Homo sapiens: one gene and its partner. The protein of the gene in region 1 purifies or fractionates together with the protein of each later gene. This does not show direct contact. Each region holds a gene or a part of one and is shown in the gene's direction. Other genes may lie near its edges.

The links. Proteins that work in one complex are often made in the same cells at the same time.
Region 2: the proteins of RNF152 (region 1) and C9orf40 purify together in Homo sapiens (affinity purification with mass spectrometry; one large-scale study listed by BioGRID and IntAct). This does not show direct contact.

Annotation. Positions count from the first base shown.
Region 1 is NC_000018.10:61,812,803-61,816,650, reverse strand, and holds part of RNF152 (E3 ubiquitin-protein ligase RNF152), read left to right. Parts: intron 1-52; 5' UTR 53-187; coding exon 188-799; 3' UTR 800-3,848. UniProt on the Homo sapiens protein: E3 ubiquitin-protein ligase that acts as a negative regulator of mTORC1 signaling by mediating ubiquitination of RagA/RRAGA and RHEB.
Region 2 is NC_000009.12:74,950,813-74,954,412, reverse strand, and holds the start of C9orf40 (uncharacterized protein C9orf40), read left to right. Parts: upstream 1-1,500; 5' UTR 1,501-1,801; coding exon 1,802-2,227; intron 2,228-3,600.

The DNA of each region.
Region 1 (3,848 bases):
TCTCAACTTCTTTGAAATAATTAAGATTGTTTGCATTATTTGTCTCTCTCAGAAATGAACACACCTGTGAGTACTGGATGCCTGTGAGCTTGCCATTACCTGCACTGCAAAGACACAGGGCGGTGGCCTCTGAGAAGCAGCTCCTTCCCCTTCACCTTGGCCTTGCCCTTCCTGCTCACGGTCCACCATGGAGACGCTGTCCCAGGACTCTCTGCTGGAATGTCAGATCTGTTTCAATTACTACAGCCCCCGGCGCAGGCCCAAGTTGCTGGACTGCAAGCACACCTGCTGTTCAGTGTGCCTGCAGCAGATGAGGACCAGCCAGAAGGATGTGCGGTGCCCCTGGTGCCGCGGTGTCACCAAGCTGCCTCCCGGCTTCTCCGTGTCGCAGCTCCCGGACGACCCGGAGGTCCTGGCTGTCATCGCCATTCCACACACTTCCGAACACACCCCGGTCTTCATCAAACTTCCCAGCAATGGGTGCTACATGCTGCCCCTGCCCATCTCCAAGGAGCGTGCGCTGCTGCCCGGAGACATGGGCTGCCGCCTGCTGCCCGGGAGCCAGCAGAAGTCCGTCACCGTGGTGACCATCCCTGCTGAACAGCAGCCTCTGCAAGGTGGGGCTCCCCAGGAGGCGGTGGAGGAGGAGCAGGACAGGCGGGGCGTGGTGAAAAGCTCCACCTGGTCGGGGGTGTGCACTGTCATCTTGGTGGCTTGCGTCTTGGTCTTCCTCCTCGGCATCGTGCTTCACAACATGTCTTGCATTTCTAAGCGCTTCACTGTGATATCCTGTGGCTGAAGAGGGCTGCAGGGAAGTCTCTTGTGGGTGCCAACTTAGGGGTTGAGCAGGTTGATGATGAGATCCCAGTGAGAAGATGGGGGGCAACACTGACCATTTGGTGCTGAGCGCTGGCCTCTGGGTTGCCTCTTGATTACCCCAAGACAGACACAAAGGGCAGAAGGTGCGGTCTCAACAAGATACCAGGTGAATTGTTCTGAGTGTTGATGGCAACAGCTTGGAAGATGATTGCATGCATCCTCATAATCATGTATTCAATGGACTGTAATTTATGATTTTTCAAAATCATGTTACAAGATAGACATATTCTACTTAGACGTTAAACTGTACAAGTGCGTACAATGTGACCTTCTCTAAATGCGGTAGATTCAAACAAAGATGCTCTGTAGACAAGTAGAATTAAACCTGCGAATCCGTGTAAAAATTCAGTGAAGACATGCACTGCTGGCTTCTTTATTTTTTTTTTCTTTTTATTGAAACCCAGTCTTCATTTAGTTGCTAAGGCTTTTAATACATTTTGAATGGCACCAAAACAAAATAAGTCAAAATGGACAGTCATTTTATTTGGAGGAAATATTTGAACAAGTGTCTCCAATGTGTTGTGTTTTGTCATGAACCTTCATTTTCTTCACTTGTAATTAGAGCTTGCTACGTGTTTATGGAACTGAAAGCTCAACAGGGGAGCAATAAACCGAGAAATCATGAGAAATGTCTAATCCCATGGGAAAACCTGTATGCCGATTTTCCTCAAGCCATCTCACAAAATAAGAATTTCAAATGTAAATATTGTGTATTTGTGTGTGTATGTGTGTGTGTCTAATTTGATTTACCTCAGGTGTTTGAGTCTTTGCTGAAGAATCCTGGGATGAAGACTTCATTGGGCATGAATGAGTCAAGTCTCTGAAGCGGTGGCCACTTCTTGGACATCTTGACCCAGCGAGTGGTCTCCTACACGTCACCTGCAACACTCGCTCCTCTTCTGTGTATTTAAGTCCTGCATTTTGTAAGAGGCAAATGGAGAGTAACAGAAGAGTGTCTTTTCTCCTGGTTTTGGAGTCTTGCACTGGCCATGAGTGTTGTGACTGATGGTCAACCCAGGCGGGCATTTTAATAAATGGCCTGTGATTCTTTTTTGAAAGATGCTCTTCCACAAGAGTTAAGCCAGTTAGAATTCCTGTTTCCTCTTGTTGATATGAGAGAAGATCTCCTGTATTTTAACACGTTTTTACCAAGAAAGGTGGCAAGGTAAACTAACAGCTCAAATTCCCAATATAAGTGGACCAGTTCCTCATAAACTGTCAAATGTTCTTAAATGTGTAATGATCTATAGATGCTCATGAAGAAAGATCTGCTACAAGTACGTGATAAATTCCTATCCCTGGGTGCATGTGCATTCAGAAATAGCTGTGAGCTTTACAGCTCTCATCTAACTTCTTTTATGGAATTCATGAAGCAAGTGGTATGTGACAAGGACTCCACTTATAAATATAACTGTTTTTATGTTCCACTGAATCCCTGAAAATGGTGAGGAGGGTGGGGGGAAGTGAAGGAAAGACAAGCAGGGCTAATTCCAAAAAGCAAGGCTAGAAAATAGCCCTGTGAGGTCAAGACAATTTAATTTATTTACATGCTGTCTGTTATCTTCAAGCAGCACAAAATATGCATATAAAAGTGATGGAATTAATGTGAAATAAAACAAAAATATAATGGCTAGAATACAAAGCTAATACTGCTAATTGGCATGAGAATTCAACATAAAATTGTGAGCTCTGATTTTTCAAATTGATCATAAAACCTTTAGGAAATGTATTTGAAAGCTCAAAATAGAAATTAGGTTAAAATGCCATTTTATTGTGTAAGCTCTTGGGCATTATACAACAAATAATCTAGGATTTATTTGGTATTAATAATTTAGGTGTCATATTAGCTGAATACTATCCTCTATTACATAACATAATATACTGTTGGGTTAGTGTCAATTTCTCAAACTCTCCCAGGCTGCCATAATGCATGTCTGACCTAATTTCTATTTCTCTTGGAGGAAAATACACACACACACACACCACAGAAGTGTTGCATTAAGAATGCTACATTTCGAATAGACTTTGCCCTTGCAATTTTAAGCTATGCCATATTCAGATTAATTTTGTGAGTGATATCTGCATATGTTTCTGTACAGTGTGAAATGACTGACCCTGTAGTATAGTACGTGATAGAGTTCTACTTGTTAAAGTAGGTTAGATATAGACACTAATGTGTGTGATGATAGTGTCCTGTGTTTCTTAGTGCAAATCTGTAGAGTAAAAATGTCCATAGAACTTTTACTTAAAAACAATCCCATGCTAGAGTTGCCATTAAGCAGTGCAAAATTAATCGGCTGTATGGTAGATTCTTGACCTTAAATTTAACAACAACAACCAAAATCAGATTTTTTTTGTGAGTCTTACTGACCTAAGAAACATTGTTTAAATTGTTTAAATGGATCTGCTTGCAGTTATTTGTGTACCTGTTTGTTGGGGTGTGCATTCTTGTGTATGTGTGTGTGTGTGTGTGTGTGTGTGTGTGTGTGTGTGAGAGAGAGAGAGAGAGAGAGAATCTCAGTCTCCCAGATAGAATTTTATAGGCTTAATGATGTTTTAATGTTGCTTGGCATCCCATTGCTCTGGCCTCTTCTGGCATTTACCAATGACCCTTAACAAACACATCTACCCATGTGACCAAAGTCCACTGACACAAGAGGCCAGGATTCATACTTGCACATTAATGAAAAGTCACAACTGGAAAGCACAGAAAGAGCTGAAAGCAGCCTCCGGTGGCTTCATTTTGTAGATGAGTCCGTTTTGTAATTCTGCAGAAAGGGGGGGATATGAACTTCGCACTGCAGTGTCTTCTTGCTCCATCCTAGGTCTGTCTATATCTCTATCTGGCTATGATCCTTTCTAGGGTTGATGAATACCCTTTACTGAGTCAACTATTGCTTTAAAGAATTTTTTTTGTAGGTTTATGTACTCATTTTAGTTAGCATCTACCTCTCTGGGAAAATGAAAGG
Region 2 (3,600 bases), on another chromosome or scaffold:
CGGTTACCAATTTCAAACAAGAAAAGTAAAAACCAAACAGAAAAGCTATTGCTTACTACCCTAACTTGGTACATTTCTGTGCTTGTTAATAACTAATAATTAACTTGTCCTCTCACAACCACCTTGAGATGCAGGGGTACAGGGTAAATTAGTACTGAGATAGTACCTAGCACTAAAATAGAATTATCTTTCTTGCACACTTTTTCTACAGAGGATGATAGTTTTTCCCTTCAAAGCACTGGTAATAGTCTTATTTTCTTCCTTCCATTTCTGCTTACTTGGTTACTGTCTTTATCAAACTATTAAAATAGTAAATACGACCAGATGCGGTGGCTCACACCTATAAACCAAGCACTTTGGGAGGCCCAGACAGGAGATCGCTTGAGCTCAGTGGGGCCCGGCTGCAGTGAGCCGTGATGGCACCACTGCACTCCCGCCTAGGTGGCCGAGAGAGACCCTGTCTCAAACAAAATAAAAAATAAAAATAATAAAATAGTAAATATACTGCAATTGTCTCCACCTCACTTCACCTGACAACACTATTTTGCTGTAATGGCCATAGAATCTTGATCTGACCACCGCCCATAGTAAGCAGGGAACTCAGCCTTCCAACATTAATTAAGAGCCCAACAATTTTAGGTTTCAGTTAGAAAGGACAGCTGCGCTTCAGGCTTGGTTCTTGCCAACTACTCAGCTATTTTGGATGAGCTGCACATTTTGTCTGTAACTTCCTCCATAAGTTTTTAATCAAGAGATCTTCCAGGAATGTAGGGCCTGCTTCACCTTCCACAGCAGCTGCGCAAAACATGCAAAACATACACTTCGATTTGTGTTTTCTGTTAGCTTTAGCTACTTCCCTCAGCCCAGACTCCCTTCAGTCTTTTGTTTTGAATAACAACCTACTGTGAAGCTTCTTAAACACTAGTTTTATTTAAAGCTTGTATTATCCTTTTCCTTTTTTTTTTTTTTTTTTTTGAGACGGCATCTCGCTCTGTTGCCCAGGCTGCAGTGTAGTGGTGCGATCTCTGGCTCACTACAGCCTCCACCTCCCAGGCTCAAGTGAATCTTCCTCCTCAGCCTCCCGAGTAGCTGGGACCACAGGGGCAGGCCAACAAGCCTGGCCTATTTTTGATTTTTTGTAGAGACGAGGTCTTGCTATGTTGCCCAGGATAGTCTGGAACTCTATTATAATCTTTGTCTTAATCTCATGGAGACGCCCCCGTGGTCACTGACTGGAGGAAGGAAATACACATTTTAAAGGTTTTAAATTTCCTATAGAAGGGTCTAGAACGTACCGCGCTATAACGAACATAGTAGTAAGACCACCGCCACACTCCTGAGGAAACAAGGTCACGCCCCTCTGCGGGCCGCTTGATCGGGTCTTTAATTAATCCCGCCGCGGCCTTCCCGCCTACCCCCGAGCGCGCACTTCCGGTCGCGAGGGCGCTCGGGAGCGCGCCCCGCGAGCCTCCACCAACCAGCGGCTCCGCCTGGCCAGACAGAGTGCGCGCGCGCACGTTGTGCGCAGGTTCGAATCTCCGCCGCTTCGCGGTTGCTTCTCAACGTCCGGGCCGCATCTCGGCGGCGGCGAGGGCTGAGCGCGGGAGCTGCCTCCGAGCCGGAGCCCCAGCCCTAGGCCCTGCGCGAGCTGCCCCGCCCTACCCCCTCCAGCGTCCTGTCGCCTCCTCGCCCGACTTCGGCCTGTCCCTCTCTCACGCGCTCAGTCCTCGCTCTTCGCCCCCCGCAGCTATCGGCACTCGGTCTCCCGCGCCTGGCGGGCTCCGCCCGAGCCTCTGGGCCCATGGCCAAGCGGCGTGCGGCCGAGCCGGTGACGTTCCACGTGCCTTGGAAGCGGCTCCTGCTTTGCGACTTCGCTGAGCAGCCGCCGCCACCGCCTCTCTGGATCCGGCCGCCCGGGGTCGCGCATGCTGGGCAGCTCCTCGGCGTCCCAGAGCAGCACCGAAAGCGCAAAATCGACGCAGGGACCATGGCAGAGCCCTCGGCTTCGCCCAGCAAGCGCCGTGACAGCGGGGACAACAGCGCCCCGAGCGGCCAGGAGCGTGAGGACCACGGTCTGGAGACAGGCGATCCGCCGCTGCCGCCGCCGCCCGTACTGCCGGGGCCGGGGGAGGAGCTCCCGGGCGCCCGGCTCCCGGGGGGCGGTGGCGACGACGGGGCGGGGCGCGCAGGACCCCCGCGGGGAGACTGGGGGGTCGCATCGCGCCAGGTAGGGGCTGGGGGCGGGTGGGCTGAGGGGCGAAGGGGCTTGCCTTTTCCCCACACACACAAAACGCCCCGGTTCCCACTCATGACTTGTGTAGGTTAAGACGCCTGAGGGGGTTGAAAGAAGGGGTCACCGCTCCGGGAGAGGACGCCGACCGCCAGAAGCACACCCCGAGAGTCCGATGGGCAGAAAGCACTGGGCTGGGCGAGGGGGAAACAGACCGTGGTCGGGAGCGATAGAAGTGGCCTTGCGGCGTCAGCGCCGCGCTCCGTAAAAGGGAAACGGGACCGTGGGTCGTGGCGGGCTGTGAGCATGGCGAGAACGCAGACCGTCAGGGCATAGGTTCAGCCCAAAGACAAACGACAGATAAAGGTGTAGAGGGCCTTCCTGGGTTTAACGATGATTAGTCTAGAATTCGGGATAGAGTTCTTTTTCTAGAGGGAGACCAGTGTGGTAGCCATTGATTAATTGAACGTCCTACCGGCTGGTACAGCTTCTGGAGAAAAGGATGGACCACCGTACCTTGGTCAAAGCTTTGTTTTAACTCATAGTGTTAAATCTGATCCTAGGCAAAAGTATCATTGAAAATTAATTTGGGGGCGGGGCGTGGTGTCTCACGCCTGGAATCCCAGGACTTTGGGAGGCCACGGCGGGTGGATCACCTGAGGTCGGGAGTTCGAGACCAGCCTGGCCAATAGGGTGAAACTCTGTCTCTATTAAAACACAAAAACTAGCTGGGTGTGGTGGTGTATGCCCGTAATCACAGCTACTCGGGAGGCTGAGGCACAAGAATCACTTTAACCTGGGAGATGGCGGTTGCAGTGAGCTGAGATTGGGCCAGTGCACTCCAGCCTGGGCCACAGAGTGAGACGCTGTCTCAAAAAAAAAGAAAAGAAAAGAAAGAAAAAAGAAAATTAATTTGGGCCTTAAGGCGTATATGAGAATCATTGGCGGGTTTTTATTCAAGACATGAGCCTGCCTCATCTCTGCATGTAAGAATCCTGAGAAGATCTAGGTATGCCTCGGTTTGCCTAGATCTCTGCTGCCCGGCCGCTAGCCGGTAAGAACACTTGAAACGTGACTAGTCCAAATGGAAATGTGCTCTAAGTTTAAAATATACACGAAATTTCGTGGATTTAATAAATGAAGATAAAATAGCTCAATTTTATATTGATTACACATGAAATAACTTGGCTATATTGAAGAAAATATATTAAAATTAATACCAGAAGTTTCTTTTACTTTTTAAATACAGCTACTAGAAAATTTTAAATTATGTTTTTGGAGCATTATATATTTATTGGACAGCTTTGGTCTAGACTTAGGAATTCATACTACTTTTTCACAATCCTGAATGGCAGGGGACTTGGGAGATG